Linked DNA regions of Homo sapiens. The protein of the gene in region 4 purifies or fractionates together with the protein of the main gene of each other region. This does not show direct contact. Each region holds a gene or a part of one and is shown on either strand. Other genes may lie near its edges. The genes, in order: PRMT2, SMC1A, DNM3 and THRB.

What was found.
Region 1: the proteins of THRB (region 4) and PRMT2 purify together in Homo sapiens (pull-down; one study listed by IntAct). This does not show direct contact.
Region 2: the proteins of THRB (region 4) and SMC1A purify together in Homo sapiens (affinity purification with mass spectrometry, with the first as the bait; one study listed by BioGRID). This does not show direct contact.
Region 3: the proteins of THRB (region 4) and DNM3 purify together in Homo sapiens (affinity purification with mass spectrometry; one large-scale study listed by BioGRID and IntAct). This does not show direct contact.

The regions. Positions count from the first base shown.
Region 1 is NC_000021.9:46,660,869-46,666,714, reverse strand, and holds the end of PRMT2 (protein arginine N-methyltransferase 2), read right to left. Parts: coding exon 5,753-5,846; exon of another isoform or gene 5,445-5,752; intron 4,916-5,444; coding exon 4,779-4,915; intron 3,333-4,778; coding exon 3,161-3,332; intron 2,421-3,160; coding exon 2,388-2,420; coding exon of another isoform or gene 2,341-2,387; 3' UTR 1,591-2,340; downstream 1-1,590. UniProt on the Homo sapiens protein: Arginine methyltransferase that methylates the guanidino nitrogens of arginyl residues in proteins such as STAT3, FBL, histone H4. Acts as a coactivator (with NCOA2) of the androgen receptor (AR)-mediated transactivation.
Region 2 is NC_000023.11:53,416,044-53,422,413, reverse strand, and holds part of SMC1A (structural maintenance of chromosomes protein 1A), read left to right. Parts: intron 1-373; exon of another isoform or gene 374-476; coding exon of another isoform or gene 477-519; intron 520-6,370. UniProt on the Homo sapiens protein: Involved in chromosome cohesion during cell cycle and in DNA repair. Central component of cohesin complex. The cohesin complex is required for the cohesion of sister chromatids after DNA replication.
Region 3 is NC_000001.11:172,385,337-172,391,706, forward strand, and holds part of DNM3 (dynamin-3), read left to right. Parts: intron 1-1,796; coding exon 1,797-2,023; intron 2,024-3,236; coding exon 3,237-3,473; intron 3,474-6,370. UniProt on the Homo sapiens protein: Microtubule-associated force-producing protein involved in producing microtubule bundles and able to bind and hydrolyze GTP. Most probably involved in vesicular trafficking processes, in particular endocytosis.
Region 4 is NC_000003.12:24,140,742-24,147,111, reverse strand, and holds part of THRB (thyroid hormone receptor beta), read left to right. Parts: intron 1-289; coding exon 290-437; intron 438-3,405; coding exon 3,406-3,611; intron 3,612-6,370.

The DNA.
Region 1 (5,846 bases), on a different chromosome or scaffold from region 4:
ACAAGCACGAGCCACCACATTTGGATGAGATGCCTTTTCTAATAACCATGTATGAAACTGCACCCAGACCACCAGCCTCCATGTCCATGACAGAAAATCCTGACACAGGCTGGGCACTGTGGCTCACGCCTGTAATCCCAGTACTTTGGGAGGCCAAGGTGGGCAGATCACCTGAGGTCAGGAGTTTGAGACCAGCCTGGCCAACATGGTGAAACCCCGTCTCTACAAAAATACAAAAATTAGCCAGGTGTGGTGGTGCATGCCTGTAATCCCAGCTACTTGGAAGGCTGAGGTAGGAGAATCGCTTGAACCCGGGAGGCAGAGGTTGCAATGAGCTGAGATCACGCCACTGCAGTCCAGCCTGGGCAACAGAGTAAGACGCCGTCTCGAAGAAAAAAAAAAAAAAGAAAATACTGACACAGCTTCTTCACAGCTTGATGCTTGATTAAAAAAAAAAAAAAAAAAAAAAAAAAAAAAAAGCCACAGAAAGGGAAAAGATTTATTCACAAAAATATATGTGTTACAGGACTCAGCCAAATTATATCAGGAACACCTGGAATCTCAATTAGAAATAGAAAAAAAAAAACCCTAATAGTAAAATGGGCCAAAGACTTAAACAAGCACCTCAAAAACAGGATATCCAAAATGAGCGGCAAATCTACAAAACTGGATTAGTCATCAATGAAATGTATACCAAATCCACACGCCCACCAGAGCAGGTAAAATGCAAAACACAATACTGGGTGTTGACGAGGATGCCAACTCTCATGCACAGCTGGCAGGGATATTAGATTCCTTGACTTGAAAACCTGGTATACAGTGTACACCCAACAGAAATGTGTACATACATGCACCAAAACACATACACAGAAATGTCCACAGTCTCAGTAATCATCATAGCTAAACCATGGCAACAACCCAAAAGGACACCATGTGAAACAAGATCATAAACTGTGGTCTATTCATGCAGTTGAATACTATGCCACAATGAAAAAGTCAACCACAACCACACTGTCTAAAATTCATAGATGAGTCTCACAAACAATGTTTAATTAAAGAAGGCAGACACAAAAGAACACGTGTACAACTCCATTCAGGCAAGAGTAATCGACAGTTACAAGTCAGGACATCACCCTTGAGAGGGTGGGCACTGAGTGGAAGGGGAATCGGGGAATCTGTAGTGTGTCCTGGCCTGGATGCTGGTTACATGTGCGTCCACTTTATAAAATGCCATCATCTATGTACCCATGACTAGCACTGTTTTCAATATATATTTGATATTTCAGTTTTGTTTTTTGGGGTTTTTGAGACAGGGTCTTGCTCTGTCACCCACGCTGGAGTGCAGCAGTGCAATCCTAGATCACTGCAGCCTCAACCTCCTGGGCTCAAGTGATCCCCCCGCCTCAGCCTCCCGAGTAGCTGGGACTACAGGCACACGCCACCATGCCCAGCTAATTTTTCTATTTTTTTTGTAGAGATAGTATCTCGCTGTGTTGCCCAGGGTGGTCTTGAACTCCTGAGCTCAAGGAATCATCCCACCTCAGCCTCTCAAAGTGTTGGGATTACAGAGGTAAGCCACTGCACCCAGCCTATATTTCAATAAAATTTAATAAAAATCAAAACAATACAAAAAAAAATTATGGACATGTATCTACTGATGTGGAAGTTTTTTCACAATATTGAGAAAAACTTATAAAGCAATGCATATAGTATGATCCTGTAATTACAAAAAATAACATATATGCATAAAACAGGATACACAATGACATTCACTCATTTAAAAATATTTATTGAGCATGTGCGATGGACCAACACATAATTTATTTGGAAGACGTCTACACAACTGTACTATCCCATGCAGAGTCCCATCGCATACATCACCACCTTAGCTCGCACGCTGAGCCAGGGCAGTGTTCCCTACACGCCACTGGCACAGCCCTGTGCAATCCTACGTCCCACACGAGTGGATGAGCGACGGCAGTAAGGGCACCACTAACATAGGAGGTGGGGACAGTCACTGTCACAGGGTACACGGGCTGATATGCGTGCGTCCTAGGAGTGTAGACCTAGACCTAGCTTAGGAACATGGAGCTCCGACCCAGCCACGGGTCGGCACTGTGGGCACCACGGGTGAACACCTGGAAACACAGCCTACTTCTAGAGGGCAGACACTGGGCAGCGGGGGTGGCCACGGCAGCTCCTGCCGAGCCCAAGCGTGTTTGTCTGTGAAGGACCCTGACGTCACCTGCCAGGCTAGGGAGGGGTCAATGTGGAGTGAATGTTCACCGACTTTCGCAGGAGTGTGCAGAAGCCAGGTGCAACTTGGTTTGCTTGTGTTCATCACCCCTCAAGATATGCACACTGCTTTCCAAATAAAGCATCAACTGTCATCTCCAGATGGGGAAGACTTTTTCTCCAACCTGAAAAAGATAAATGACAACAGGTCAATCAGATGATAAATCATTTGATTAACATACTACATTTCCTAATGGTTTAATATTGGACAAGAGAACAGTATTCAGGTGCAGAATTTTTTTAAATGACAAACTTTTAACAAAAACTTATCACAAAGCAAAGCACAAAACAAATATAAAAAATGAAGGAAAACCATTTATTTTTATTTTCTTTGCCACATTAATCCTGAGCCCAAAGAAGAACATTCCATTTTCAGCAGCCTCTGAGACAGGAAGCCCAAGTGAGCTGGGCGAGCTACACATGAATTCACACACGGATCCGAAGGCTGCCAGTCAGAACACGCATCACAGACGACACGCCTAGACTAACTGCTGCCTGGGAAGCCACAGAGGCCTGTGTAAAGGGAGCGCCAAGGCACAGCTCAGGCTTCTGTCCATCTGGGGGACCCTCTGGACATGGCACAAGGGGCCTCAGGCTGATGTGGGTCTCTGCTCTCCCTCACTTACCGTGTCACCTGAGGGAATGACTTCCCTGACTTCCCTTCCAGAGCCCTCCACTTCCCGTGCTGTCAGATGGGAAATGAAGCCAATGACAACAGGCGCTTTCTGTGTAAGGATTAAATCACTCCTGCACAAAAGGCGTGGACCCCAGTGTGGGCCAGCATCTGCCATCACTACCACCACCCAGGCCTGTCTCCCTGAGGACCGGCACCCACAGGACAGAATCTTACAACTACGTATCTTACTTTTTGAGATGTGGGGTCTTGTCTGGAAGTGACAGCCCAGCTCAGAGCCACAGACATGTGCCTTCTCCACACTGGGTTTCTCTGCAACACAACTGAACCCGTGACCACGTCTCCTGTATGGACAGGGACTGGGTCGTCCATCATGAACAGCGTCTGCTTCCAGTGTGTGGTGCTGCAAGACAGGGGTGCGTGTGACCTGGAGGCTGAGCTAGGGCAGTCTCCACATGGCCCTCGGGGCGCTGACTCAGGCTCGCACTGGCTCTCGCCCCCAACAGCACCCACACAGCCGGCAGTCCACCCTGAGGGCCTGGGGACACAAAGCTTGGCTTTTCAGGCTAACTCAGGGAACATATACACCCCCAGCCCTGTGATCTAAAGGGACTCTATGGGATACACTGGGATCAAAGTTACGCTAGTGAGACAGATCCTGCCAATGCCAAACACAAGCTTGCTCCTGAGACCACTCAGATTCCAGGAGGTGTGGACGGCTCACCCTGGGTGGCCCAGAGGATGCGGGAGCTCAGGGGACACACAGCTGCACTAAAGGTCCCGTGTGGTGTCGACTCCCCGGCCCGCCAGGAGGACGGCTGTGCAACCCCTTCCTGCACCCTTGCCTAAGCTGCAGAGGCTGGTGATCTAGCTCCTGCTGTTAAACTGTGGTGTACACAGACAGAATCAGGTCCAAGGAGTCGCTTCTGTGAAGGTTACAAGGTGAGGACAACTGTCACATTTGGGGGGAAATAGTAAAACGCTATGATTCTGCACTGGGTTGCGTTGGAAACATCTCTAAGTTCCTCAGGCTCTGTCTTCCCTCAAACTCCCACTGTCCACGGTGGGGCCAGCAGTGAAGTGGGGGGCTCCTCAGGTCTCCAGTTTTTCCCTGACTCTGGTCACACCCCTCACCCCAGCCTGTGCCCCAGGTCACTGCCCCCTCCACGCCCCCAGACTCGGGGATGGGTATAACTGGCCTCCAAGCTGCCCACCTCCACCCGGTGATGGCACTGGAGGGGCCACCACAGGACTCTTGTGATGGGGACCACATGCCAGGCCAGGCCATCAACCCCGCACCTCTGCGACCTCCCTGGAGCCGGGGTCCCCTCGCGGGGCCACCACGCTGGGAAGTCAGCGGGGCAGGTGCCAGAGCGGGGTAGCCAACCCCACCCAAAGGGAAGGCCTGCAGGGCCCTGAAGGCAGCTCCACTGCCACACATGCCCAGGGTGCTGGCGGGGAAATGTGTCCCAAAAAACAGGCACCTCCAAAAACGTCAGGTGAACCCCGACGCCCCGTGGAGGCGCTTTGGGTCAGACCATGAAGAGCTGTGGTGCTCCTCGCGGGGTGGAAGACAGGGAGCTCCTCCCGTTGGGGCTGTTGTCGGAGGGACGCCCAGGCTGGGCCCAGAGTGGTGGCGAGACCCGGAAGGGGGCACACAGGCTGCGGTGTCTACACCACCCGTGCCCCCATGCGCGCCGCCCCCACCCCACTGCCCGCGCCCCCACGTGCCCCACCCCCCCACGACCGCCACGCCGCGTCCCACCCCCTCCTGCGCGCCCCATCCCCGCACCCCGCCTACTCCCCTGCCCCCCACCCCGCACCCCGTGCCCGCGCCCCGCACACTCACGGGTGGAAGGGCCCGGTGCTGAGCACCTGCGGCGGCTGCCCCTCCTGCAGGCTCTGGAAGTGGACGCTAAACCAGGCCGTGAAGCCGTGCAGGGTCCCCGCCTTCCTGATGTCGAAGCGCAGCTCGCCCCTCAGGGTCTGGGTCAAGCAGATGACAAGGCACGCGTGGGCACCGCGTGGCACCGCAGGGCCCGGGTTGGGGCGGCCCCCTCCACGCGCCCCGCGCAGACGCTGAATGCGTCAGGAACCGTAGAAAAGCCCCCCAGCCTGGGGAAACCACCCCCAAAACCCGCATCGTGAGTTCAGAGGCTTCAGTCAGAAACGTTTCAAGCATCTGAGCTTCTTGCGCCCAATTTTCTACCCCAGATTCTGCGGAATCTTTTCGGCGCTCAGCTCTTCCAGTTAAGGAGTTGGAGAGCTCCAGGCTGGGCCTTTCCACAGCAGAACGAACTAAAAACCAAAGCGCGCCGGCGCCACCGCGCCCGCCCCATCTCCAGACGCGGCGCCAGCTGGGGCGCCAGGCAGGGCGGGGGCGCGGGGAAACCGCCCAGAGCCCACGAGCGCCACCGCGCGGCCACAGACAGGGATTCACGGAGGGAATTCTAACGATTCTGTCATGAAGAGTGGCTTAAAATACTTGAAAAAAACTGTAATGCAAATACCATAATGAAACGAAATATAATTTATTTGATTTTGAAGATGCTGAGAATATTAAACATAAATCTAAAATGAAGACGCTGGAGACATAAAATGGTGTACAATATGAAAGAATCAAAATAGAACGTAAAAAAGAAAAAAGACTGGAAAAAATCAGTAGCAAACGTTTTATAAATTCACTTATTTGCATAATAAAATAATTAGTTATTCACTCACACCCCCAGCACTCACTGAAGGTTTTTGATAAGCCAGGCTCTGGTCTGAGTGTTTCGTGGTCACTGATTATCGAATGTAAGGAGCAATTCATCTTTTTCTCACCTCTAGATCAGAAATTTGCACGGTTCTCATGTCCAACTGCAATATAGTGCACGGTTCAGAGAGACAGTCTTCTGGTTTCAAAATGTGGTTATAC
Region 2 (6,370 bases), on a different chromosome or scaffold from region 4:
CCATGTAACCTGAAACGTCGCGGACCCTTACGGGTTCCTTGCCCGTCCAGAGGGGGTTCTGCTCGAACCCACTCTCCCCGCGCGGGTGCTCTAACTCGAACCCCTTCCAGGTGTCACTTGCCGCTTCCTGCGCGGCCCCCGCCCCGGCCCAGTGGTACAGGCCGAGCTGCCAGTTACCCCGCCTACTTCCCCCTCCCGCCAAAGGAGTCGCGTCTGGAACCAGCTTCCCGCCAGCTCAGTCCTCCGCCGCGCGGCTCCCCGCCGGACCGGCCGGAGCCGGCTTCCCAGCCTTACTTGACCCCCTCCGGAGAATGTGGGGACGCTGGTAGCTCTCCCGTGGCCTTCGGTCCCAAACGGTGCACTTCTGTTTCAGCCCAGCGTCCTCTCTCGCCTCGCATTGGTACACTCCAACTCCTTTCTACTCTTCTCTGGAGGCGGCACTTTTGAATTTCAGACCCAGCGCTCCAGTCTTTAGAATGCTTGAGGTGTCGATCCCCACCCCCCACCGCTATGTCAGAGGTAGTTGCCTCGAACTCGCCCTTTTCCTACCACCGAAACCGTCAAAAGCCGAAATTAACTAATTTACCAAATTTGTTGAATGCTTATTGTTTATCAGGAGTTATTCAGTTGCAAGTTGTGGAAACAGCGGAGAATAGAATAAACCAACTCCATGCTCACAGGGAACTTATATTCCAGAGGGGAAAGAAGATAAGGAGAAAATAAGATGGTTTTAGGCTGTCATAAGTGCTATACAGGAAATGAGACAGGTGGATGTGATAAAGTGACTTAGGTGGTGTCTTTAGAAAGGGTGGTCAGGTAAAGCCTCTATTTTGTGTCTTCCCAACTCTAAACGATACACCGTGGATTCCTCTCACCTCAGATGTCCATTTGGAATCCTGCTGTATTCTTCCACCCCAGAGATGTTCTAGCTGAATGATATCCTAGCCTAAGAGGCTGCCCTTGCTGAAGTAGCACATACTGAGTACCTTTCCTGGAGACTGAGTGTCTCAACAGTGGCACTATTGACATTTCCAGCGAGATAATCCTTTGCTGTGGGATGTGCTCTGTGCATTGTAGGATGTTTAACAGCATCTCTGGCATCTACCTGCTAGATAACAGTAGCACCCCTGCTCCCCAGGCATGACAATCAAAACTGTCTCTAGACATTGCTAGATGTCACAGAGGGTGTGTGTGATTCCCCCAACCCCCCAACTTGTTTGAGAACCACTGGCCTGGAGGGCTAATGCTTGGTGTCCACCCAGTTTCCTCGGGTTTTAGTGTAGTGGCCCCTGTTGGAAGAGCTAGGATGTACCTCTTGGCATTCAGTCCCCTCAGCATTAGTAGATTTGTATTCCCAGCTGTTCTGAAAAGGGCTATGGCACTCCCCCACTTGCCCCCGTTCTTCAAGGCCCACCTCTACAAGCCATTCCTTTAGTCCCTTTGGTGAGTGAGTCTTCCTCTGTGGCATACCGTAGACACTTGGTACACGTTAATGTTTATTAAGTCCTATATTGATGGTGCATGTTTTTGTATCTTCATTGGCCTGTGAGTACCCTAAAGCAGACATTCCTTGAAACGTTTTACTGGTGTTCAGTCCATAATATATATTACAAAAATGTTTACCATATTGATTGTGATTAGAGAGGCTTGGGGTTGTGAGATGATGTTGTCCTCCCTGGAAATGATGGGAGAAGCCCAAAGGTTGGATATTGGTTCCTAAAAGGCTGACTCCTGGTCTGCATGATGTGCTAGTCCTGCTGTGATGAGGGAGACAGCTGAGTCCAGACTTAGGATAGGACTAATTAATTGAGTACCTACTCTGTGTGTCAAGTACTTTATTTATTGGGACCCTGTTTTTTCTTTTTCTTTTTCTTTTCTTTTTTTTTTTTTTTGAGACAGTCTTGCTCTGTTGTCCAGGCTGGAGTGCAGTGGCATGATGTTGGCTCACTGCAACCTCTGCCTCTTGGGTTCAAGTGATTCTCGTGCCTCAGCCTCCCAAGTAGCTGGGACTACAGGCGTGCGCCACCCCATCTGGCTAGTTCTTGTATTTTTAGTAGAGTTGGTGTTTCTCCCAGTTGGCCAGGCTGGTCTCAAACTCCTGGGCTCAAGTGATCTGCCTGCCTCAGCCTCCCAAAGTGCTGGGATTACAGGCATGAGCCACTGCACCCAGCCAAGGGACCCTTTACAATTAAATTCTCAAAATGACCCTAGGAGGAAAATGCCAATAGCTTCGTTTTATACATGAGGAGACTAAGGCACAGAGGTGTGATAACTTGTCCGTGGTTCTCAGAACCCATGCCTGTGCTCCTGCCACTCCAATAGAGAAGTATGTGCCGCACATATTTTTAGACCCGTGAATTGTGGTTTTTTTCATCTTTTTCCAGGTGAGGGAATGGAAGGTCAGCTAAGTGGTAGTGAAAGTAAGATTAGAACCTGGTCTGTTGGTTCTAAGCCCAAGTTTGCAAGCTTTTTTAGATGGAGTCTCACTCTGACGCCCACACTGGAGTGCAGTGGCATGACCTCGGCTCACTGCAACTTCTGCCTGCTGGGTTCAAGTGATTCTTTTCTTTTTTTTCTTTTTTTTTTTTTTGAGATGAAGTCTTTCTCTGTCGCCCAGGCTGGAGTGCAGTGGCGTGATCTCAGCTCACTGCAACCTCTGCCTCCCGGGTTCAAGCTATTCTCCTGCCTCAGCCTCCTGAGGAGCTGGGATTACAGGCGTGCACCACTATGCCCGGCCAGTTTTTGTATTTTTAGTAGAGACGGGGTTTCACCACGTTGTTCAGGCTGGTCTCAAACTCCTGACCCCGTGATCTGCCCACCTGGGCCTCCCAAAGTGCTGCGATTACAGGTGTGAGCCACCGCGCCTGGCCTATTTTTTTTTTTTTTGGAGTCAGGGTCTTGCTCTGTCACCAAGGCTGGCATACAGTGGCACAATCATGGCTCACTGCAGCCTCAACTTCTCGGGCTCAAGCAACCCTCCCATCTCAGCCTTCCCAGTAGTCAGGACAACTGGAGTGTGCCACCATGCCGAGCCAATTTTTGTATTTTTTGTAGAGATGGGATTTTGCCATGTTGTCCAGGCTGGTCTCAAACTCCCGAGGTCAAGTGATCCACCCACGTCTGCTTCCCAGAGTGCTGGGATTACAGGCGTGAGATGCCGTGTCCAACCTAATCATAGTCTTATACCGTCTCTATGGAAGGACTTGGGCTGCTGTTTTTATGGCTGAGTAGAAAGGTGTTGGAAATCAGATCTTCAGTTCAAAGTCATATATAAGTTCTTTAGGGACAGTCTTGAGATAGAAATTATAGAGACTAAACTGTTCCTCCTTATCCACCAGCCCGACTAAACTTTTTTTTTTTTTTTTTTTTTTTTGAGACAGAGTCTCTCTCTGTCGCCCAGGTTGGAGTGCAGTGGCGCGATCTCAGCTCACTGTAACCTCCACCTCCTGGGTTTAAGCGATTCTCGTGCCTCAGCCTCCCGAGTAGCTGGGATTATAGGCACACAACCGTGCCTGGCTAATTTTTGTATTTTTAGTAGGGACGGGGTTTCACCATGTTGGCCAGGCTGGTCTCAAACTCCTGACCTCAGGTGATCCGCCTGCCTCGGCCTTTCAAAGTGCTGGGATTACAGTCATGAGCCACTGCACCCGGCCTAAACTTTTAAAACAATATCTATTTTTTGGCCAGGAACGGTGGCTCATGCCTGTAACCCCAGCACTTTGGGAGTCCAAGGTGGAGGATCTCTGGAGCTCAGGAGTTTGAGACCAGCCTAGGCAACATAGGGAGACCCTGCTTCTGCAAAAATCCAAAAACTAGCTGGGCATGGTGGCTTATGCCCATGCTTCCCGCTACTTGGGAGGCTGAGACAGGAGGATCACTTGAGCCAAGGAGGTCAAGGCTGCAGAGAGCTGTGATACTGCTACTGCACTCCAGCCTGGGTGACAGAGTCAGACCCTGTCTCAATAAATAAATGAATAAGGTCTGGGCGTGGTAGCTTATGCCTGTAATCCCAGCACTTTAGGAGACCGAGGTGGGTGGATCACTTGAGGTCAGGAATTCGAGACCAGCCTGGCTAACATGATGAAACCCCATCTCTACTAAAAATACAAAAATTAACTAGGTGTGGTGGCACACGCTTGTCGTCCCAGCTATTCAGGAGACTGAGGCAGGAGAATCACTTGAACTTGGTAGGTGCAATCTAGCGTGGGCGATAGAGCGAGACTCCATCTCAAAAAATAAATAAAATAAGTAAATGAAACCTTTTTTGTTTTCGGATTCTAAAATGAACAAAGTAAAAGCTGTAACTCCACTACTGAAAAGATAGCCACTGTTAATGTTGAAAACCTTATTTATTTGAATAGCTGGTACATGTACATGGTATACAATTTTAAAAATCCTTAAGGATATACAGTAGTAAAAAGAAGACTCCCTTGACCCTAGCTGCTTAGTTTCCTTTTCAGAGGCAATCACTGCTGCACTGTTTACGTTTTCATATATTTGTTTCCTATGCCTTCTCTTCTCCCAAGTTTTATTATGAAAATTTGCAAGCATATATGTGCATTACTTAGTCATTTGGAAGTAAATTACAGACTCAATTACATTTCACCCCTAAGTGCTTCAGCATTCACCTCTTAAAATCATCATTCTCCTGTACTACCACTATTCAGTTATCACAACTAAGAAAATTTCCTCATGTCATCAATTATCCAGTTTATATTTAAGCTTCCTTAACTTGCTCCCCAAATGTCTTTTTGTTATTTTGGAACCAGAGTCCAGTCAAAGTTTGTGCACTGTTTACCTATGTCTCAGAAATCTCTCATGTTTTGGAATGGTTCGCTCACTTTTTTTTTTTTTTTTTTTTTGAGATGGAGTTTTGCTCTTGTTGCCCAGGCTGGAGTGCAATGGCGTGATCTTGGCTCACCGCAACCTTTGCCTCCCAGGTTCAAGCGAGTCTCCTGCCTCAGCCTCCTGAGTAGCTGGGATTACAGGCATGTGCCACCATGCCCAGCTAATTTTGTATTTTTAGTAGAGACGAGGTTTCTCCATGTTAGTCAGGCTGGTCTGGAACTCCCCAACCTCAGGTGATCCGCCCGCCTCGGCCACCCAAAGTGCTGGGATAACAGGCGTGAGCCACCGTGCCCGGCTCACCCTTTCTTTTTAGACACTGACTTTTTGAAAAGACCAGGCCATTTGTCTTTGAGAACATCCCACATTCTGTGTTTGTGTTAAGATTTCCTCATGAAAACCTTACTATGTTCCTCTATATTGTATTGCTGTATTTCCTAGGAACTGGAAGATAAGTCTGAAGGCTTGTTTAGATTCAGATTAGGCTGGATATGGTGGCTCATGCCTGTAATCCCAGCACTTTGGGAGGCCACGGCGGGAGGATCACTTGAGGCCAGGAGTTCAAGACTAGCCTGGGCAACACAGCGAGACCTTGTCTTTATTATAACAAAAAATTAAAAAAAGGAAAAAAATAGATTCAGGTTAAATATTTTTGGTAAGATACATCATAAATGATGCTGTGTGTTTCATATTGTTTCACAACAGGAATATGCACTTTTTTTAGATGGTGGTAAAATACACATAAAATTTCCTAAATTAACCATTTTTAAGTGTGCAGTTCAGTAGTGTTAAATATATTCACGTTTTTGTGCAAACGATCTCTAGAACTTTTTCATCTTGCAAAAATGAAAATCTATGCCCATTAAAAAACAACTCCCAGGCCAGGCGTGGTGGCTCATGCCTGTAATCCCAGCACTTTGGGAGGCCGAGGTGGGCGAATCACAAGGTCAGAAGATCGAGACCATCCTGGCCAACATGGTGAAACCCTGTCTCTACTAAAAATACAGAAAGTTAGCTGGGTGTGGTGATGTGTGCCTGTAATCCCAGCTATTCGGGAGGCTGAGGTGGGAGAATCCCTTGAACCAGGGAGTCGGAGGTTGTGGTGAGCTGAGATCACGCCACTGCACTCCAGCCTGGCAACAGAGCAAGACTCCATCTCAAAAGAAAAAAAAACCTCCCATTTTCCCCTCCTCCCAGCCTATTTTTAAATTTTACTTTACATTATTATTATTATTATTATTTTATTTTATTTTATTTTTTTTTTTTGAGATGGAGTCTTACTCTGTTGCCCAGGCTGGAGTGCAGTGGCACGATCTTGGCTCACTGCAGCCTCCACCTCCCAGGTTCAAGCGATTCTCCTGCCTCAGCCTTCCAAGTAGCTGGGATTACAGGCGCCCGCCACCACGCCCAGCTAAGTTTTGTATTTTTTAGTAGAGACAGGGTTTCACCATATTGGTCAGGCTGGTCTTGAACTCCTGACCTCAGGTGATCCACCTGCCTCAGCCTCCCAAAGTGCTGGGATTAC
Region 3 (6,370 bases), on a different chromosome or scaffold from region 4:
AACGCTTTCGCTGGCCCCTCATTGCCAAGCAAATAAAGTTCAAACACTTTTCCTTGGCATTCAAGGCCTTCGCATCTGCCTCAGGATTCCTGGCCAAACTTACCTTCCACAACTATCGTGCATAAACCTCTACTCCACAGAGGGTTTCCTAAATACATCTTGTGTATTAGATTACTTTCACCTTTGAATCACTCTTGGTTTACAAAATATGTACAGAAAACACTTTATTTCACCACAATAAACCTTTGATTTAGCTGAATTTTTTGATTAGTAGAATTATTTACATGTTTTGATGCCTTTAAAACATAATGAAGCTATGTGTTTTAGGTTCTTGTCATCTCTGAATTACAAATTTAACCATATCCTAGAAATTTGGAGCATCTGACAGCTGTTCTGTTATCTGCCTGATTTTTTAACAATTAAATATATACTTGCGTTTGGCCTTTCTTAAAGATATTCATGAGTCTAGATAAGAGTTAGCTTTCTCATGTAACAGAGAAACTGAAAAATTCAAACGGCTTATTTTTACTAGGCTTAAGTTAATTGCTGCACTACTGTAAAATAATGATACTTAAACAAAAATTTACTTTTTTAAGCACTCAATCACAGTGAGATAATGGGGTAAGGGAATGGGCACCGGACTTCAAGTCAGAAGGTTATGGATTCAACTGAATGCTGTGTGACCTAGCACAAGATACTTAAATTCTTGGAACTTGTTTCTGTATCTATAAAACTGGAATACTAATACATGTTTCTTCAGTGTGTGATAAGAATTGTCATATAACTTATGAAGCCACTTGGTATATACCATACTTCATCGATTCTCACATTCACTTCTTTTTATTTAATATTTCTGAAATGAAGATGCATCTTATACTCAATGGCATCTTGACATCCTGTCAAAGTTTGATTGATGGTATTTTTTTTTTGTCTGAATAGTCAGCACATATGATAGTAGTGTTTCTTAAAATCACTGGTGTCTTAGAGTTGATGAGATACAGTAGCTGGCGTTCCCACTCTCAGTGTTGTGCACCATATTCATCCTCTCCATTTTCATCCTGCAACAAAATGCCCCTCCCCCTGAGACTCCCACATAGTGTTCATACTTTAGTTTGTTTTTATATATTAGCTAACTATGCAACCTCATGTCAGTCCCCATCACTGTTAACTAACTTCTATTGTAAACTTCTGGAAAACAGAGTGCATCTCTTTCACTTGTTTATAAATCAACCTGCATAGTTATATAAGATTCTGTATTTAATAAATATTCACTTACTGGTGCTAATTTCACTTTTGAGACGACACTGAAACTTGGCATCTCAATAATTTTCCAGTGATTTTGGTAAAAGCTAGGGAAAGGACTGCGAATGCCAAGGAATGGAAAACGTGTGATTACATAGGTTTCTTCACATCACTGTTTTCTGTTGAAAATACTGCTTCTTACCTCATAGTACCTTCCCTCTTCTATAAGCCAAACAGCTCCAGACAATATTGTGAAATGCTCACAAAGCCAGCAGGCCCTGTTCTGGTGATGGCTGGGTTTGGCCTTCTTCTACTCATCTCTATCATCCTTCAGTGTGGACAGCCAAAAGACAGAGGGAAACTGTTACTGTCACCAGTACTGGGGATAGAGACAAAACAAAAGTAAACAGACGCTTGGTGCTTCACTTTTCCCAGGGTGGACTTTGGTGGACTTTGGTGGACTTTGTCCAGACTCTGACTGCCACAGCCATGTTTCTACCTCCACTCAGTCACTCATTTATTCCCATTTTTATTTCTCTGTGGTGATCTGACAGGTTAAAGATTTCATAAATTCCGAGCTCCTAGCACAGTTGTATTCTTCAGAGGACCAAAATACCCTGATGGAGGAATCTGCTGAGCAGGCTCAGCGCCGGGATGAGATGCTTCGAATGTATCAAGCACTGAAAGAAGCCCTTGGGATAATTGGGGACATCAGCACAGCCACCGTGTCCACTCCGGCACCCCCTCCAGTGGATGACTCCTGGATACAGCACTCTCGCAGGTAAGAAGATGGCCCCGGCCGGGTGCGGTGGCTCGCTCCTGTAATCCCAGCACTTTGAGAGGCCGAGGCGGGCGGATCACGAGGTCAGGAGATCGAGACCATCCTGGCGAACATAGTGAAACCCTGTCTCTACTAAAAACATAAAAAAAATTAGCCGGGCGTGGTGGCGGGTGCCTGTAGTCCCAGCTACTCGGGAGGCTGAGGCAGGAGAATGGTGTGAACCCGGGAGGCAGAGCTTGCAGTGAGCCGAGATCGTGCACTGCACTCCAGCCTGGGTGACAGAGCAAGACTCCGTCTCAAAAAAAAAAAAGAAGATGGACCCACCCACAACCCCTGAGCCCTGCCACGCTTGTCCAATATCATTTTCTGAGAGTGCTTTCCTAAACCAAGATGGACCTACAGAAAAAGGGGAAAAGATATTTACATTCAGGAGTAAGGATCAGATTATACTAACTCCCTTAAAAATGCAGCACAGTGCATCCTCACAATGGAATGTTATATAGTCACTAAAAAGAACAAGACAGTTCTATTAAGTCCTAAAATGAAAAGATAATCCAGTTAACGGGAAGCTTTAAAAAAAAGGGAGGTTGTATGCCAGGCGCGGTGGCTCACGCCTGTATTCCCAGCACTTTGGGAGGCCGAGGCAAGCGGATCACCTAAGGTCAGGAGTTTGAGACCAGGCTGGCCAACATAGTGAAACCCTGTCCCTACTAAAAATACAAAAATTAGCTGGGGGTGGTGGCGCACACCTGTGATCCCAGCTACTCGGGAGGCTGAGGCAGGAGAATCGCTTGAATTCAGGAGTCAGAGGTTGCAGTGAGCCGAGATCACGCCACTGCACTCCAGCCTGGGTGACAGAGCGAGACTCCGCCTCAAAGAAAAAAAAAAGGAGGTTGTAGAAGACTGTGTTCTATGGTATACAGAAAAGCAATTTATATATAGAGAGAGAAAATATATACTTATACAAATGTAGAATACAGTTAAAAAGGATGCACAAGAAACTTCTATAGTTGTTTCAACAGAGTGAAGGGGTAGGGAGAGGAAAACTTACTTTTCTCCATTTACCCTTTTATCCCTTTGACTTTCATGACATGAATTGGACTTATTCAGTCAAAAAATAATTTTTAAAAAGCAGGAAGTTACAAAACATTTTTAGAGATTAATTCAGACAGAAAGGAGGAGTGAGCAAACTATGATTTCTCTTTTTCCTCAGGTCACCTCCTCCAAGCCCCACAACCCAAAGGAGGCCAACACTAAGTGCTCCCCTCGCAAGGCCCACATCCGGCCGAGGACCAGCTCCTGCCATTCCCTCTCCTGGCCCCCACTCTGGGGCTCCTCCAGTCCCATTCCGTCCAGGCCCATTACCTCCTTTCCCCAGCAGCAGTGACTCCTTCGGAGCCCCTCCACAAGTTCCATCTAGGCCTACGAGGGCCCCGCCCAGTGTCCCAAGGTAAGGCATGGAGCAGAAATTGGGGGGGTAGTGCGCCTTGGTTCTCTTCTCATAGAATGACAGACAAAATTTATTTGAAAGAGAAAATTGCAAAGATCTTATCGTACGTGTTTGCAGTTTTCACAATGAACAGAGACTATAGGAAAATTGCCAACCCTGTTATGCCATTTAAAAATCACTTGTGATCATTGAAATTTCTCATTTATCAATTGGCACAGACTAAATAGGACTAAAGAACACTCCGTCCCAATGAATGACATTTTGGCAGCTATTGGGAGAATTTGAGGGCTTTGAAACAAAAGAGCTATGGAGGATTGTAGCAAGCTGTGTGTTCTATAGGTCATGAGAGTTCCATGGACTAAAGTCTTGCCTTCTCCATTATCAAAAGAATTCTTGAAAACCACTGACTTAGAGAATTTTATCCATCTGCCTTCTGAACTGTGATCCTTATACTCAATTTTACCAATTTTCATATAGGCTGAATAAATCTGGCTGATTGATCTGCAATTGTTTTTTTAAAAACTACACATAGAAATTTTAATATAGGCATGATTGTTGTATACAGTCACTAATCATATATAAGATAGATCATTGTACATCTGAATAATACGTGTTGACAATTATAAGTGGATTTTCAGGCTTAATTGTGAAACAATATAGCTAATAAATAATGGACCTAGAAACACACATAGTTGGAGCTGTAGTCTCACCTTCATATACTTACAGTCAAAATATACACAATGAATAGAATCAGAGATTTTTAAGGTATAAAGTACTAAGGTTTTTTTCCCCCTCAAAATCAGAAATATAAAGAGGAAAGAAAATTAGCCCATATATAAAGTTAATTTTTAAAAAATTCAATTCAGAGAATTAAAATATTTATATACTCCATGAAGGAATATCTGACTGTATATGAACCATAAAAACAGATGTGACTTCTACCCATCCCTGAAGCCTGAGCCACCTTGCCAACTGATTATGGCACTTACGTTTTATTTTAATCTTCAAGTTGTTAAGCGTAATGAAGAGAAGAGAAGAAGGGGGATCTTAAGCTAGTACACAGAGGGTGGTACAGCAAGAATAGGCAGGAGATTTGCAGTCAGAAGACCTGGGTTACTGAAGGTCTTGGGCAACTCATTTAACTCTGAGACGGGAGTTCTTTATCTATGAAACAGGGAGAACTCAATAAGGTTGTTCCCCAGATCATATGACATGAGGTATTTGAAAGAGTTTGATACACTGTAAAGACTACAGTTGTTACCACTGTTATCATTTTGGTCCTAAGCAAAGAGGATATATACACACTCTCAATCCAATTTTTTTTCTCTAAATTCAATAGACTTGGCTTATAAATTATTTGGAATGGTGCTAAATTTCTAGTAATAGCAGTACTAGCAATAGCCAACATTTATTGTGCCCTCAATATTACTAGGCATTGCCCTAAGAACTTTGTATATACATTTTTGTTTAAAGCTCACAACAAATAGGTTGTTATCCACATTTTACAGATGAGGCAGTGAGGTTAAACAGCTTGCCCAAGGCTGCTCAGCCAGTCCCTAGTGGAGCTGGACTTTAATCCCATGCAGTCTGCTTCCAAAGCCATTTCCTGACCATGACCCCAGGGTTTTTCAGCCTCATCAGTACTGACGTTTTTGTTGTGGAGGGCTGTCCTGTGTATTGTAAGATGTTTAGCAGCATCCCTCCCCTCTACCCTCTAGATTTCAGTTGCAGTCCCCAGTTGTGACCACTAAAAATATCTGTAGACACTCCCAATGTCCCTTAGGGGAGTAAAATTCCTCTCCACGTGAGAACCACTGCACTGTAGTATTCAAAAGAATTCCCTTCCATGTAAAACCATGAATTTCCGCATTGAGCCTTGCTACAAGCAAGATCCAATTTATTATTTTAGAAAACCTCAAATTGACTAGGAAAGTGTCTGCCATTGTACCAGGAAGGTATTGAGGCCATTGGAAGAGGAAGAGTTGAGAGTGGGAAGGCTGGAGTGCCATGCAGGAGCTACTTTTGTCTGTCTAGCTGTGAGAAAAAACCAGAGCAAACTGGTGGTGCCTGTCCTGGGGAATGAACATGCATGTTCTGCCTGCTTGCTTGACTGCTTTACCTGTGGGTTTCAGATGAGCTAGCTTGCCAGTACCCTTCAGAAAAATCAACTTTTGAATGCTAAGCTGACTTGTTAAGCAGGGTGGAGTTGCCGTTAGTATTTTCCAGCTCGCACGAACAAGGCAGCCGGATGAGAATGAGTAGCCCGAGCTGGATGGCCGGCACATGGGCAGCAGGGCTTAATGAGACTACATTAGGGAATTTATAGGATGACAGTTGCCTTATTTGAAATTTCTAGAATACTCTCAAGTTAGAACCAGACTTTACTTGATCTGGCCATGCAAAGAGTCCCAAATTTAAAACAGAAATGAAAGTACAGGGTAAAAGAGGAAAGTTTGTTGTTTTGTGCTGAGCCTTCAAGTTTCTGTGCTGGTTCAGCGCTTTGGGAGGGAAATCCCGGGGAAGGGGGCTGGGGGAGGGGTGGTCACCTGAGAGAGGGCAAGAAAGACTCTGTCAGGATCCCCATGCCTGTTAAATCCAGCTTTAGATGGAGAGTTCTGACCACATAAAGTCTGTTTTTAATAAAAGCCAGAGCAGGAATCCTACCAAATACAAGCCAGAAATGGGGTTTAAGATTTCAAAAAAAGAAAGGAAGAGAGAACGAGAGAAAGAAAGAAATTGAGAGAAGCGCTTGTTGAAACTTCACCTTATTCTGTTTGTTTAATATATTCTATTTCCCCTCTGTGCTTTGCCTCCATTTTCTCTATCAAAAACTTAGAAAGTTGAAATGCCATTATCCATCATCTCTGGGAAAACAACCCTTTGTTTTCAGAGAAGGA
Region 4 (6,370 bases):
GAAAAAATAAAAACAAGCGCTAGATGTTCCTACTAGCCTCTTTTCCTTGAATAAAGACCAAAAAAAAAGGTGTTGACTCTGTAGTCCTATGGCATCATCAGCTCAGATTTAGAACTCTCTAGATCCTTCTGGGCCAACTGTCTTATATTTGAATATGTGGAGCTAGAGGCCTAGAAACAGGTTAAGGTCCAAAACGATTCATCTCATAGTTATATGGACACAAAATTCCAGAATCACTGATTTCAAGAAAATATGAAACTGTTGTCTTGGGTCTTTGTTTTTCATATAGGGTTTCTTTAGAAGAACCATTCAGAAAAATCTCCATCCATCCTATTCCTGTAAATATGAAGGAAAATGTGTCATAGACAAAGTCACGCGAAATCAGTGCCAGGAATGTCGCTTTAAGAAATGCATCTATGTTGGCATGGCAACAGATTGTAAGTAGATCTTCACTTGCTTCATATTCAAGGAATGTTGATTAGGAAACAGTTTGGTTCAAGGAGATCGACTGGGCAGAAAAGAAGGCAGGAACCCAAGAAGACAGAGAAGGGAATACCTTACTTTCGCATACACCCCTCACTCCCCACATCCAGGCTTGCCCTGAAAGGGAGGTGGGAGCCATTGCTGGGTGGGTTCCATCCTACCCTGTCATACCACCTCCTAACTGTCAAAGTATGGATGATGGAGGAGGAAATGCAGTTAAATTATCCCTATCACATTTGCAGGCCTAGTTGTTAGCAACACTCTGTTTGAGACAGAGATTACAAATGAGAGGTCTGGTCCATTTACCTTGATAAGGTATCATTCTATACACAGTGTTCACATGGGGTAGAGCCTCAGGGACTAGTCCTAATATTTTTTCAAGAGCAAAGACAGGAATTTATTTTATGGACATTTTTGGAGATGGGGCGCTGGCAGAAAACATCGTGTTCAGAAATTTCTGAAGAATGCAAAGTTGAGTGCTATTGCATGAGTCATCCTGCAGTTGGTTGTTTGTTATATTTTTAGCAATAAAGACATTCCGAGCTGAAGTCGTCCTACCCAGTTTTCAAAGTGCTACAGCATATGGTGGCGAGATTAGCCCTTGGGGTCTCTTCTCCCCACACTGTGCGAGGGATTTACACCAGTCACTTTAATTAATCTAATCATAAAAATAAGAATCATGTCATTCAGAATGTGTGGCCTCCCTTTTGCCAGGCATCAGTATTAATGATTCTACTGGCATAAATTTTTTGCACATCAGTGAGAGATTCCAACTATTAGTTAAAAATTAAAAAGAAAAAGAAAGATAAAAAATGAAGAAAGAAAAAAGAAAATACAGTGAGGATTTTTCCTGATGAAAGAAGTAATCATGACTCACATTTTATGTGAGAAATAGAGTTCTTTCACTGAGAAAAAAAAATCTGTGAAATGTTCTGGTTTGCCCATTAAAGAAGAAGGAATGGAGAATCTTTAAAAAGGAAGAGGGTTATGTTAGAGTGTTAGGCTGGAAATCCTGGGTTAATCCCCACCTCTGGCTGAGTATTTTCTTTATCTTTATCTCTTAAAGGCCTTTAGCCCTTGCCAACAATATGCCTGATAGGGATATGTGAATATGATTGACTTACAGCCAAATACTTAGATATGCCACTATGACAAACTTATTATTGATTATCTATTTCAGTGTTCTATTGAGAAGTTTAAGATACTAGTGTCTATGAGGTTTAAAAACTCAGTGTTAATCTAGACTGTATGGAAATAAATTTTGAGTGCCCTTTACTTGCTTGTGAGGGATTCTAAGAGCTCAGGCTTTCTAATCAGAAAAACTTCTGTTCGAGTCCCAGATCTGTCACTTACTAGCTGTGTGACCTTTGGAATTAAGCTGAGATTTTCCTTCTGTGAAATCATTGCCTACCTTGTAGAGTTGTTTTCAAGATTAAATTAGATAATGTTCATCAAATACAACAGTCCCTGGCACACCGGAAGCATTTGGGAAGGGGTTGAGGGTATTATTACCATTCCTCCTTTCCCTTTAGTAACTGAACCAAAATGACTTAACAGGGCTCATTCATATTTTCCTCATTTGTAAGCGCTCACATGACTTTGACAATCCAATCAAATCTAAATGGTCTGGAATTTAATATTCTCTTTAAATTAGAATATTTAAATGGGAGACTAGCTAGGCACCTTGGTTCTCCTTCTCTTGCTATGTCTGCTTTTTTTCTTTTCCTACCAGGTCACACCTTCATCAAGAAATGGCCCTAGGACAGTGATGTCGTAGAACTGGAGTCAGGAGTCCTGGGTCTTGCCTTGGCTCTGCCATTAACTTGCTCTGTGACTTTAGGCAAGTCACGACCTCTCTGGATCAATTTCTTCTTCTTTCTGTGAAAAGACAGAGTAGGACTAGATGACGTCTAAGTTCCCTTCCAGTTCTAAAATACTATGACTCTGCAATGTAAAACCTGAGCCTTTCCATTCCATTGATAGTTACCAAGTCTAGTGAAACGGTTTTGGTTTTGGAAATTGACCACAGAAATATAGGTTTCTTGTTACCTGCCCTTCTGATTTTCCTTTCACCCAAATGATAGAAGTCAGGACTGCATTTACTGAGCACTTATAATGCATTATCACATTGAATACTCTGTGAAGTGGGTATTATTGAGCCCATTTTGTATAGGAAGAAATGAAAGCTCAGAGAACCTAAGGAACTTGCCAGAGGTCACACAGCTAGAATGTAATAATATCAGAATTCAAACCCAAGTCTTTCTAGATTCCAAAGCCTGGACTCTTTAACCACCCTTGAGGGTGGACCAGGTAGAGAATAATGTACAGTGAGTACCTTGAGGCCCAGGTGAGGCCCAGCCACATTCCAATTAGCCCTTAAGGGAGCCATGAAGAGTTGGGGTCCTTTTTCCTCTTAAAAAAAGGGATCACGAGCCTCCCACTTACTGCTCCATAACGTTTCTTTTTTTAATTCCATAACGTTTCTTTAACCTGAAGTTCTCTTTACTAAGAGCCGTTTTAGGGGAAGCGGGGAGGACAGAAACCCAGAGAGTGAATTCGGATGACTGGCTGGACAGATTTCTCTGTGATCTTGTGGGTAGTATGGATTTTACCTCTCTGCTTCACTCTGTTTTAGAACCACCTTCTGTGGAGTTGGAGTGCGCAGTGTCTAGGTTCTCTGGGGACTTTGTTTTGAAAAGCTGGCCGGTCATGGGGAGTTTGGCTCTAGAGACCATGTTGGACAAGACTAGTCAATGGCAGTTTGCTGGTGAGGAGAGAAACTGTCCCAGTGTGACCCACCCCGAAGGACCCAGTAAGCCATCTGTGCATCAGTGGTCCCACTCCTGAGGCTCCAGGAAGTGCAGCTTGCTGTGTATCTTGGGAGCATCTGTGTGCCTTGTCTCATCTTTCTCCCCCTCCCAGTGGTGCTGGATGACAGCAAGAGGCTGGCCAAGAGGAAGCTGATAGAGGAGAACCGGGAGAAAAGACGGCGGGAAGAGCTGCAGAAGTCCATCGGGCACAAGCCAGAGCCCACAGACGAGGAATGGGAGCTCATCAAAACTGTCACCGAAGCCCATGTGGCGACCAACGCCCAAGGCAGCCACTGGAAGCAAAAACGGAAATTCCTGGTAAGGCTTCCTTGCACAGATCAGTTTCACTTATATGCCAGTGTTTTCTACCTCAATTTATTCAGTCCTCATCACCTTGGGATACTGGTGTTATTGCCTCATTTTACTGATAGGGAAACCGTAGCTCTGAGAGGCTGAGTAACTTGCAAAGCTAGGATTTGAGTCTAGGTCTGTGTGAGAATAAAGGCCACTCCTACCATCTACTTTGTGATTTGCTGAATTCTAAAACAGTTTCTTAGGCCACATTATATCAGTTTGCTTTTACTGTTAGAAAGACCACTCCCAGACCAACTAATTAGTAAAATGTTTTGTCTGCCATCTTTTACTTTCTATACCCATTTCTTTCCTTAGATGCCCAGTATATACATATTTAGTCCCTGAACTCAATCCCAAATATTCCCTTTATAATAGCCTCTAGGCCTCAAGTATATTTTTATGTCAACAGAAGTCAAAATTTTTTAGCTTAAATTAAATGAGCTTGACTCAAGAAGGGCAATGGGAATGAGGGAGTAGGGATAGGGTTGGTGGGCACGAGTGTGTAGAGAAAAAAGACCTTCCAGACCCTTGCAATATTGATGTTTAATATTCTTATAAAAATTACCAGTTGTGAAAATTCTTCCCATTCATTTTTTATTCAGACTTCATAGTGTTTTGAGGTAAGCTGGAATTACTATCCCCATTTTACAGACATGCAAACCAAGCCCAAGGCCTTAAGCCGCTTGCCCAGGATCGCACTGCTAAAAGCCAGGCACCAAAACCAACTCGGTCTTCTGGTTCCAAGTCCAGGCTCTCCACCCACCTCATTAGAAAGACTACGTGCCCTACTAGTGCTGGACCATCTCAGAGACTGACTCTGCTCTTAGTTTATGATATAAAACCCTTTTCAAGTACCTACCTGACAACAGATATTCTGTGGTTTCATTTGTATCCCTAGGACACATTAGAGTACTTCCCCATCTGAACAAGAAGATATAGTGGTATAATTATCCTTGTACCTCAACATTAACATTACAATGAGATAGTGGATCTTTTTCTTAAAACAACATAACAACAACCTTAAAGGAAGTTTTGGAAAGAAAAGGCTTATACATAATTCACCTGTACTGACACAATTACTTTCGTTGTAATGAAACAATAGTGCCAGCACTTTGTTGATGGCTTTCACTAACAGCAATGTCAGCAAATACCTAGATGGCCTTTACCATATGCCAGGTACTATTCTAAGTGCTTTTCATTCATTAACTTCCTATACCAATCCTGTAGGTAGATGTGGTTAATATCTCCATTTTACAGAAGAGAGAAGTAAGACACAGAAGTTGAGGAAACTTGCCTGAGCTCCCACAACTGGTAAACAGTGGTGATGGATGCAGCCAGCTCCGGGATTTATGTCTCTATCCACTACCCTATGCAATCTTGGCACCTGCACAAACCCAAAAAGCCTCTGAAAGATCCCAGCTCTTTGGAGGAGCAGCCTCTCAGTGCCTTGATCTTGCATCTTCACCCCACCCTGGTATATCTGCCAGAAAATTCAAAAGCACTAATTCTGGATTGATAGACAAATTCTAACACAGTACACTTGGGGCATAGCAAGACAGAGTCCTACCTAATTGCAAACTTAAATCCATCCTTTCCCCAAATGTGTCACCCATAAATGGACATTGTAGAAACCACTTCCAGGCCTGGCACTGTCTCCTGATTTCAAGTCGTGACCAAGCTGAATTCCAAGTAAGGTAGAAGATTTGAAGTTCATCCTGGACTTCTCCCGGGAATTTTATACTTTTATTGTCTTTACTCCCCATAGAGAAGGGATACTAGTCCAACTAAACTTGTTTAAGTAGTCATAAGGTGCTTCTTTCCAGACTTTAAAGATTTGTTCCTTTATTTAAGAAACATTTATTGAGTGGATACTATGTGCCAGAAAGTAAATAAGTCAGGCACATTCCTCTAGTGGGAGGCAGATAATAAGAGATAAACAAACAAAATAAATGCAGGTAGTGGTAAGTGCAATGAAGGCAATAAACAGTGTGATGGGATGAAGAGTTTGTGAACTGGAAGTGGGGAGAGACTTCATTTCTGTGAACATGGTGGTCAGAAGAAGCATCTCTGAGGAGATGACGTTGTGCTATGTCTGGAAGCAGAGAAACCACCTCTATAAAGCAAAATATAATCAAATATCTTCGTGCTGTGTGGTCACAATATCTAGTCATTAGAACCAGTCTTGAGGTCTGCACTGTTCACTTAAAGGCTCCTAACAGTTCACCAGCCTGACCATCTATGGAAAGAATCTATGGCACAGAATGATTTGCCATTAGGCTTCTGTCAGAACCATGAGATTACCCATGCACAAGAGAGTTTTATTCTCCTTGTAGGGCTGACATGAAATGTATCTTTTGTAGATCTTTAATCTGCTCAAGAAATTGTCCATCTTGATTCAAATGTAAATAACTGCTTCTCCGAGCCATTTTTCCCTAGAGGGTTATTGGGAAGGATCAGGACTCTTCCACTGTCCTGTCTGTCTCTACAATGAACTTCATTTCTGTCAGCCAATCCCCTTCTGTGCCTGGGATAACCCCTGCATCTCTTCACAGGAGAACAATGTTCCATTCAGCCTCCACACTTGAGTATCTATGCTATGTGTGATGGAAACTTGTGGCAGCTTTTCTCCAAGATGGCTGCCATCAAATTATTTCTCATCTCTGTATACACAGCCCGTTCTCTCTCTGGGAGAGGTAGAGTCTGTTCCCCTCTCCCCTTGAATC